Regions from separate parts of the Homo sapiens genome. Here region 2 is linked to region 1. Evidence: fine-mapped expression QTL. Tissue or cell type: whole blood. Region 1 holds a variant in brackets; the other region holds the start of a gene. All regions are shown on one strand. Distances are from middle to middle. Region 1 overlaps NOL9 (nucleolar protein 9). Region 2 holds the start of PLEKHG5 (pleckstrin homology and RhoGEF domain containing G5).

What was found. PIP is the estimated chance that this variant, and not a neighbour inherited with it, causes the effect. A credible set is the group of variants that fine-mapping cannot tell apart.
Region 2: it holds the start of PLEKHG5, and the variant in region 1 is the best candidate, but not a certain one, in a credible set for the expression of PLEKHG5 in whole blood (INTERVAL, PIP 0.88).

Annotation. Positions count from the first base shown.
Region 1 is chr1:6,517,725-6,522,099 of GRCh38, forward strand. It overlaps NOL9 (nucleolar protein 9), which reads right to left. Exons shown (of 12, transcript NM_024654.5): 12 at 3,623-4,375. It also overlaps a transcript of PLEKHG5 not described here. Among named protein-coding and RNA genes, the nearest start is that of PLEKHG5, 28 kb to the left of the region's middle. RefSeq lists silencers at 1,551-1,751, 2,205-2,499 and an enhancer at 2,565-2,859. The variant C/T (reference allele first, on the strand shown) is at 2,645.
Region 2 is chr1:6,488,986-6,493,361 of GRCh38, forward strand. It overlaps PLEKHG5 (pleckstrin homology and RhoGEF domain containing G5), which reads right to left and starts at 2,682. Exons shown (of 21, transcript NM_020631.6): 1 at 2,652-2,682. RefSeq lists silencers at 973-1,332, 1,743-1,832, 1,893-1,972.

The DNA of each region.
Region 1 (4,375 bases):
CAGAGATAAAGGTTGGAACAGGCTCAGATCTGACGACAAACAGAAGGGTCCATGGCCCAAATGCCCCGAGGCCAGGCCAGGCCAGGCTATCCCGCTGGGGCCGGGATGTTTCCCAGACCAGGCTCCAACTCGGGTAGGAGAATGTTACTGGATTTCATGAACGCTATTCCTGACCCCCGACTCCCAAAATGCGTCATGGCGGATATATATATACATATATTTTTTTGAGACAGAGTCTCGCTCTGTCGCCCAGGCTGGAGTGCAGTGGCTCCATCTTGGCTCACTGCAAGCTCCGCCTCCCAGGTTCACACCATTCTCCTGCCTCAGCCTCCCGAGTAGCTGGGACTACAGGCGCCTGCCACCACGCCCAGCTGATTTTTTGTATTTTTAGTAGAGACGGGGTTTCACCATGTTAGCCAGGATGGTCTTGATCTCCTGACCTTGTGATCCGCCCGCCTCAGCCTCCCAAAGTGCTGGGATTACAGGTGTGAGCCACTGCGCCCGGCCGTGTCATGGCGGATATTAAAAGTAAACTTGAAAATATGGATGTGCAGGGCCAGACGCGGTGGCTCACGCCTGTAATCCCAGCACTTTGGGAGGCCGAGGCAGGCAGATCACCTGAGGTTGGGAGTTCAAGACCAGCCCAACCAACATGGAGAAACCCCGTCTCTACTAAAACCACAAAATGAGCCGGGCTTGATGGCGCATGCCTGTAATCCCAGCTACTCGGGAGGCTGAGGCAGGAGAATCACTTGAACCCAGGAGGCGGAGCTTGTGGTGAGCCATATCGCACCATTGCACTCCAGCCTGGGCAACAAAAGTGAAACTCCATCCCAAAAAAAAAAAAAAAAGAAAAAGAAAAAAGAAAAGAAAATATGGATGTGCAGGAGGAATTTCCTGGCCCTTCCCGAGAGCTACAAAGACAAGGTTGGGAACGGTTCCAGACCATCCTTGCCAGGGGCGTGCAACTTGAAGGCACAAAATGGGACAGTCTGAAGGGCCTTGGGGCATCTTTCTTGCCCCACTTTCTATGTCACAGAGGAGGAAACAGGTAACCCTCCTCTAACACGAGAGCCACAGCAGCAAAGCCAACCTGCCACCAGAGCAACCCTTTGGCATATGTTTTTGTTTTTGTTTGAGACGGAGTCTTGCTCTGTTGCCCAGGCTGGACTGCAGTGGCACGATTTCTGCTCACTGCAAGCTCCGCTTCCCGGGTTCACGCCATTCTCCTGCCTTAGCCTCCCGAGAGCTGGGACTACAGGTGCGTGCCACCACGCCCAGCTAATTTTTTGTATTTTTAGTAGAGACGGGGTTTCACCGTGTTAACCAGGATGGTCTCGATCTCCTAACCTTGTGATCCGCCTGCCTCGGCCTCCCAAAGTGCTGGGATTACAGGCGTGAGCCACTGCGCCCAGCAACCCTTCGGCATATGGAGTCTAGGTCTTTCTTCTGTCAGGAGTTAGATGGCTGAGCAGCAAGTCCCCCTCCTCTGCCCTCAAATCAGAGCTGATGGCTCAAACTGCAGGGCTTGGAGGGCTTAACTCACTGATTAATGGAAGAATGAGACCAAATGGATCCAGCCTGCAAGTGGCTCTTAAACCGTCCGGACTAATTCAGTGAGTGTGAGTCCTTGGAGCCCTCCAAGACCTGCAAAGCCCCTCCTTTCACTCTGTGTCCTCAAACCTCCTTTCTAGACAAAAGAGATAGAAAACATACTCACCGGTTCCTGAACAAAGGCTGAGCCAGCTTCGAGGTGGAGACCCATGTTTTGTCAGGACTGAATTCATGCTTGACCTCTGCGGTGGTGGCACCCTGCCTGGACCTCCAGCCACATGCCAATGCCACAGGCCTCTCTAATCAGACACACAGGTCTCCGTCCTGCTTTGCCCAGTTGCCATCTCAACATGGAAGGCTTCTCCCCGACTCAGCCCCAGTCTTAATTTCTGCAGCTGGACCTGTCTGCACAGAAAACCAAGGCGCTCTCAGCCCTGCCAATTTGCTCCCCGTCCAACACAGGTCCCCTGGGCGCTGTATATTTGAAGGCACAGACTTCGCAGCCGCCGCTCACACTGCATTTCCTTGTTGGTGGTTGGTTCCTTCTTGGATTTTCCATTCCTGAGTGCCCATTTGCGCCCTGGAATGGGCTCCCACACTGCTGGCTGCCCTGGAGGTGCCGTCCCTCCTTTCCAGGAAAGCAACACCACAGAGACCCCGGCCTCTGCAATCCCAGCAGCCAGCAGCAGCCCCTCTGCTGGGCTCCTTGGCTACCAGGAAGGCCTTAGTTTGGTGGCTTTCCCCTGCCAGGCAGAGAGGGGCTGGTCACAGCGGGAGATCAAGTGAGCCTCAAAACATTAGAAAAACCCAAGCCAGTCTGCAGAGCACCGCAGCCGCCTCAGGGCCGGTTACCATAGCTACCCTTGGCTTCCCAGCCCAGCACATGTCTGCCCAGCTGAACTCTGCTGATTCGCAAGACTTTGCTTGCTCAGCTCCTGGCACTGCAGACTGGACCTGCTGCCCCCAACTCGGCGGCTACCGCTCTTCCTGGCAAAGCCTTGGGAATACTTAACTTAGCAAGGTCTTTCTGAAAAGGCCCTGAACATCACGTAGGCTTCCCCACTTACTGCATAGATGGCCCCCATATTTA[C/T]TTTAGCCACTGTTCAGGCTGGGCTTGTCAGCCAATCTCTCTCTGCTAGGCCCAACCCTATGAGGTGTGGGAAGACAAGGGCTGAGTCCTCGCTGCCGAGAGGCAGTTTTATCGGCACAGCACTAGGTGGGGGTTTGTTTCAGTTTTTTTTTTGTTTTTCTTTTAAGTAGATGGTGTCTCACTATGTTGACCAGGCTGATCTCAAACTCTTGGCCTCAAGTGATCCTCCTGCCTCAGCCTTCCAAGGTGCTGGGATTACAGGCATGAGTCATTTTAGTTTTTTAAAACTTGAACTCTTCCAGGAGCAAAGCCCTGTTTCCTTCTAATACACTCCCAAAGACAGTCCAGAAAGAATGCAACATCCCCTCTTTACTTACATATGAACCAAGACAGGAAAATTAAACTCCCACTTGAGCTTCAAGTCAGTGACAAATAAAAATTAAAAATACTGAAAAAATAAACTCCCACTGCACTCAATACTTCAATGGTTAAAAACAACAACAACAAAACAGGCCAGGCACAGTGGCTCATGCCTGTAATCCCAGCACTTTGGGAGGCCGAGGCGGGTGGAACACCTGAGGTCAGTTTAAGACCAGCCTGGCCAATATGGTGAAACCCCCTCTCTAGTAAAAATACAAAAGTGAGCTGGGTGTGGTGGTGCCTGCCTGTCGTCCCAGCTACTGGGGAAGCTGAGGCAGGAGAATTGCTTGAATCTGGGAGGTGGAAATTGCAGTGAGCCGAGATTGCACCATCGCACTCCAGCCTGGGCAAAAGAGACTCTGTCTCAAAAAGAAAAAAAAGGGCACAACAAAACAAACAAACAAACACATCACAAGCATTTGCTGGAGTCTCCACACTTCATTAACCGCCTTTCAACATTTTTTTTCCTCCCAGTGTTTTTTCACTATAGTTTCTTCTAAGCATTTAAGTGATTACCTGGAATAAAATGACCTATCTACATAAAATTACACAACTAAATTCATGTTTTCAAAAATATTTAATGATACAAAAGTTCATCTGTTAACTGAAAAGAGCTGAACAGAAACCATACATATTTTGTAAAATACACACACACACAGCAGAACCCCAGCTGAGACACCTCACAGTGTCAGTGATTACTATGTGGTGGTGGGCTGGAGGATCATTTTCTACATGTGTAAGCTGCTTATAAAATTTTAAAAGCAACAAGTGGGGGTTTATGAAAAACTTTCAGGAATGGGTTATCTATGGTGGCCGTGGAGCTTGCTTCCTCAAGGGCTCTTTGACCACAGGAAGCTTGGTAGCAACAATTTTAAGGTGAACCTGCCAGAGGCAAGATGAGTAAGTAGCTGTGGATTCATTTAGTTTCTGCATCCCTCCAGCATGACCGTGAGTAGCACAGCCGTGGTGCCAGCCTCCTGAGTTTACCATCTCATCAGAGGCTAGCTACACACTAGGAGTTACTGACCGTTTCTACATGCCGGAGACTGTGCTACATCTCTTATAGACATGACTTCACTTACTCCTCACCCAGGAACACTGAAGGAAGGACAATTACCCAATCTTCAAAACATAAAACAGGCTCAGGCTAAGCATCTTCCTCCAAGTTACACCACTGACAAGTGGTAGAGCCAGGATTTGAACTCAGAGCTCTATAATCAAAGCCTGCTGTCTTATCCATGATCTTGCCATCCAAACCCAAAAACAAATGACCTAGGCCGGGCGCGGTGGCTCACGCCTGTAATCCCAGCA
Region 2 (4,376 bases), 29 kb before region 1:
CAACGAGCTGGGGCCCCAGCCTGGTCTGGGTGGGAGAGGGACTTCCCTGTCCAGGAAAGGACGCAGGTCTGGGGCCAGCTCCAGGCTCTGCCGACAGCAGACGGGCCTGGAACCAGGAGTCCGAGCTCTCTGGCTGGAGGGATGTCCTTGCCAGGAATTCCCACCAAGGCTAAGCTCCCCTGGGAGCCTGCTAGTCCCAAGGCCCCACCCAACACCTTAGAAATCCAGGGGTGGAGACTGCATGCATGGGCAGGCCAGCCAGGGCGGGGTGGCTTTGCCAGGCGGCTCTCTACGCTCCACCCGGCCTACCCACCCTCCTTTCCCCTAGGCCCAGGCCTCACCCATCACCCCTTGGGTTCTGAGGCTCACCTGGAGTCAGAGCCTGACCTAAGGCCCTGCCCTGTGCCGGGCAGATGGCAGGGACACAGAAAACCTCTCCCCAGGCTAAGCCCACCGCACGGGCCCTGGAAGCCAGGAAGGCCCCTTCCTCCCCAGGGAGCGGTCCTGGCTAGTATGCCCAAGGCTGGGACCCAGTGCTAGAGAAAGAGGGAGGGGCTGCAGTCTGTGAACATCCCCTCCTGCCCAGCCTCTGCAGTTCCCAGCCCCAGACCCCAGCGTGTGTCTTCGGAGCACCTGGACTAGCAAGCCCTTCCCCGGTGCAACTTAGAAGCCTCCTTGGTAGGGAGCGGGGGAAAGAGGGCACCTGCCTGGGCTTCAGAAGACCTGGTCTGGAGCCTACGTTCCCCCACCCTTCCCCTACTGGGCCTCAATTTGCCCACCTGTGCCAAGAGGGCATAGAATTCAGTATCTGGGGATGGCTGCCAGGTCCTAGTGTGTGCCCGGACCCCGGCTAAAGGGCAGGAGAATGGTAAAATACCCCCGAGCTCCCTCAACTTGAGGAGTTACTAAGGAATCTGCAGGGGACCTCTTGGCCTCCATTTCCCAGACTTCCACCAAGGCAGGCCAGGGCCTCCCCGGATTCACGGGTCTCCCGCATCCCCCACCCCTAAGTGGGTGCCTGGGTCTGCTCAGACTGCCCGAGGCGCAGCCTCTGGCGCCCCCTGCCGGCCTCGAGAGGGCTTTTCCGCCTGGGACCGACTCCGGGACTGGCCAGATGGGGAGGATCGGCTGAGCCTCCCAGCCACGCCGCGCGCCCGGGCCCCTCCAGGATCCCCCTGCCCCGCCAATACCCCCCATACCGGGGCCAGGGTCCCATAGACTCCTCACGGCCCTATCTCCGAGCCGACCCACCCTAGAGACACTGTGATGGGGGCGGGAGCTTGAACCCATTCCACCCTCACGTAAATGGAGATACAGCTGGTGAGGACCCTGTACCCACCCACAGGCCTGGCACTACGTGGGAATCTCGAATCCGGGTTCTGTCCATCGGTTTAGGGGGGTCCTGGCGCCTAGTCCCACCCCCCGTCCGGAGCGCAGCTCCCACTTCCCCGCGACTCACCTAGGAACAGGACCAGGGTCTCCTCCCCGGTGTCTAAGGCTCTAAGGCTCGGGCCGAGACTGCCAAAGCCTCATGGGGCGCGCGGGGAGAGGGGGACGGGAGCCGCGGGACGGGCTCAGTCGACTCAGCGCAAACTGGGGCGCGGGACGTAGGGGAATTACGGTAGCCGCGCGGGCGCTACCACCTGGACCGGCCGGGATGTACCAACGGCGCCGCCCGGCTGGGACCGGGGAGAGGAGGGGTCCCAGGAAGGGCCCCGCGCCGGAGCCAGGGAGGTGGCTGGAGGCCGGGCGGTGGCTTGGGGTAATCCAGGATCCGGGCTCAGGGGAGGGGGTGGGGGGCGTCACTGTCCCCGAGGGGCCAGCCCTTTGCAGATCTCCAAAAAGTTCAAAGTCCCTGGTCATTAACTTGGGCTTGAAGACGGGAGCTCGCCCATCCCGGAAGGGGGCTAGGGGGGACCAGGGCCCGCGACAGGAAGCCTCCGCGCGACAGAAAAGCCCCGGGGGACCAGGCAGAGAGACCCGCAGGCCTAGCCCGCCCCGGAATCGCCCTGAGCCAGGTTCGCTTCCGCTCTATTGTAAAAAGCTGGATTCTGATCTGCGGCCTCCGCGGTGCCCCAGAAACAGCCCGCTTTTCTCTGGGCCCCCTCTTTTTTTTTTTTCTGGCCCAGGTGATATGGCCGGAAAAGGGTGCTGTTCTGCCATTTAGTGGTTCCCAGTTCCCCTCTCCCAGCAGCGGGAGTTTAGAATAACTCTGGGCTCAGGACTGGGAAGGGTGTGGATACAGGGGGCCCACTCGAGGAGGTGGAGTTCAGGTCCACCAACCTGTTCCGCACTTTCAAGCTTTTTATACAGCCTTCCCCCGACCCCTTCCCAGGCCAAAACCTCCAGACTGCCCCACACAACCCTTGGGGCTGGGCCTATACTAGGGCAGCTCCTGGCTGGGCCAGGGATCCCCACGTCTTCACCTGCTCCCCCAAAACTACTTAGCCAAAACCCAGGAGTCCCCTTGCATTGTTTCTCTGGCCCTGCCCGTTTCTTCAGCTGCAGATAGCCCCACCACCTCTCTCCGGGGACCAGTCACTTCCAGAGATGGCCCAAACCTGGCCATTCCCTGGGGCATCCTGGTCTGCCGCTGCTCACCCCCAAAGCATTGCCCAGGAGAATAGGTGATTGCCTCTCCCATTACTCACATCCTGCCCGTCCCTTCTCCATGGGGGCCTCAGGTCCACCCTTTCCTCTCCCTGGTCTTCATCTCACCACCCCTCCCTCCACACACGCATACCCTGACTCATCCCTGCCACCTCACAGGCCATTGTTAAGCTGCAAGGGAACTCTGAAGTCCTCCCATCCAACCTCCACTCCACACTGCAATCCCCTCTACGCTTCCCTTTCTGTCTCTTCTTGCATATGTCTAGTGATGGGGTGCTCACTACCTCCACTTCGGGGATAGCTCCAGCTGCTGGAAACTCTTTCCTGTAGTGTGCTGAACCCCACCTCCCTGTCAAGGCCTTTGGGAGCTGTGCAGAAAAATTCACCTCCCTTTCCTCCTGAGAGTTCTGAGGAAATGGGAGGCTCTGACAGAGAGGCCTGGTTTGAGTCCTGATCTTGCCTTGCTTGGCAAGTCATTTTACCTCGCCACTCTGCAGGGCCCTCTCTAGGAAACGGAGATGGGGTAGGCCCCACCGCAGCGGGGGAGGCGGCCAGATGAGGTTTCTGTGCCAGGCGCTAAGGCAGGGCCTGGCATACAGTACGTGCTGGATCAATGGCGGCTGCTGGAATCACTACCTCCTCCATGATAAACACCCTCACATGTGGTGCCCAATGTCCCCTGTGGCCCAGGGCCACAAGTGTCCTCCTCCATGCCCCCTTGTGACCTGGGACGCCCTGACTAGACCTCGAACAGTGCCCAGTGGAGCCCAGCAAGGAGCTGGGGAGTCCACACACTGTCCCGTGGCCACCTCACAGGAGGGCAGGGGGAACCCACAATATCATTAGTCTGCCTTGATCTCCCGGCCTTTCTCCATCTCCCCAAACTCACAGCTCCACCTGTGTGCAAGAAGCTGGGATGGAGCCTGGGGAGGTCTCAGATCCCAGGGCAGGTACGGAGGGCACACCCAAAGTCTAGAGGTGACTTTGTTACCCCCACTCCCAGGACACCTTGCACACCTACGCTGTGCTAGGCTCTATGCTAAGCATGTTATATATGGGCCTCTTTTAATCCTCGCTGCCGGGTTATTTTCCAGATGAGGAACCTGGGGTTCAGAGAAGTGTAGTGACTTCCCCAGGGTCGCACAGCTGGAAAAAAGTAGGTTTGATCCTGGAGCTCAGAGGTGTGGACTGCTCTACATATCTTCATCCTGGGGAGGGGCCATTTCTCTCCTGGGGTCTCCATGACACACAGTCCAGACCCCTCATCTGGACATGCAGGTGCTCCTAGTGCAGCCTGCCTCCCCCTCCTCCCGTCCCCTTCTCCCTGTGCCCCCTGGCCTCGCTTGCCCCTTATAGCCCCCAATGTCCCCCCCTGCTCACTCAGCTGTCCTCCATCTCAGTACCTCTTTAATCCTCAGGACTCCAGTTGCCTCCAGGAAGCCCATCCTGGTTAGCCCTCCTCCCAGTGGGAACTCCAGGGGCAGGAGGTAGGGGACAGATGGCAAATTCATCTCAGAAGCTCCAGCACCCAGGAGAGCCTCAAATAAAACATCAAGGGTGGGCCCAGAAGCCGAAGGGTCCAGCCCTGCCTGAAATTGGTCCTTTGCCAGGGCAGCCTGGGGGGAAGTTTGGCCAGCCAGGGTCACTTCCCTTCCTTCCTCCCAGCACAGCTAGAATGTCACCTCCAGGAGGGCATCCCCTTTGTTCTCTGGAGATCTCCTGGGCCTAGAACTGGGCCTGGCACCGACAGATGCTCAGAGCTGGTC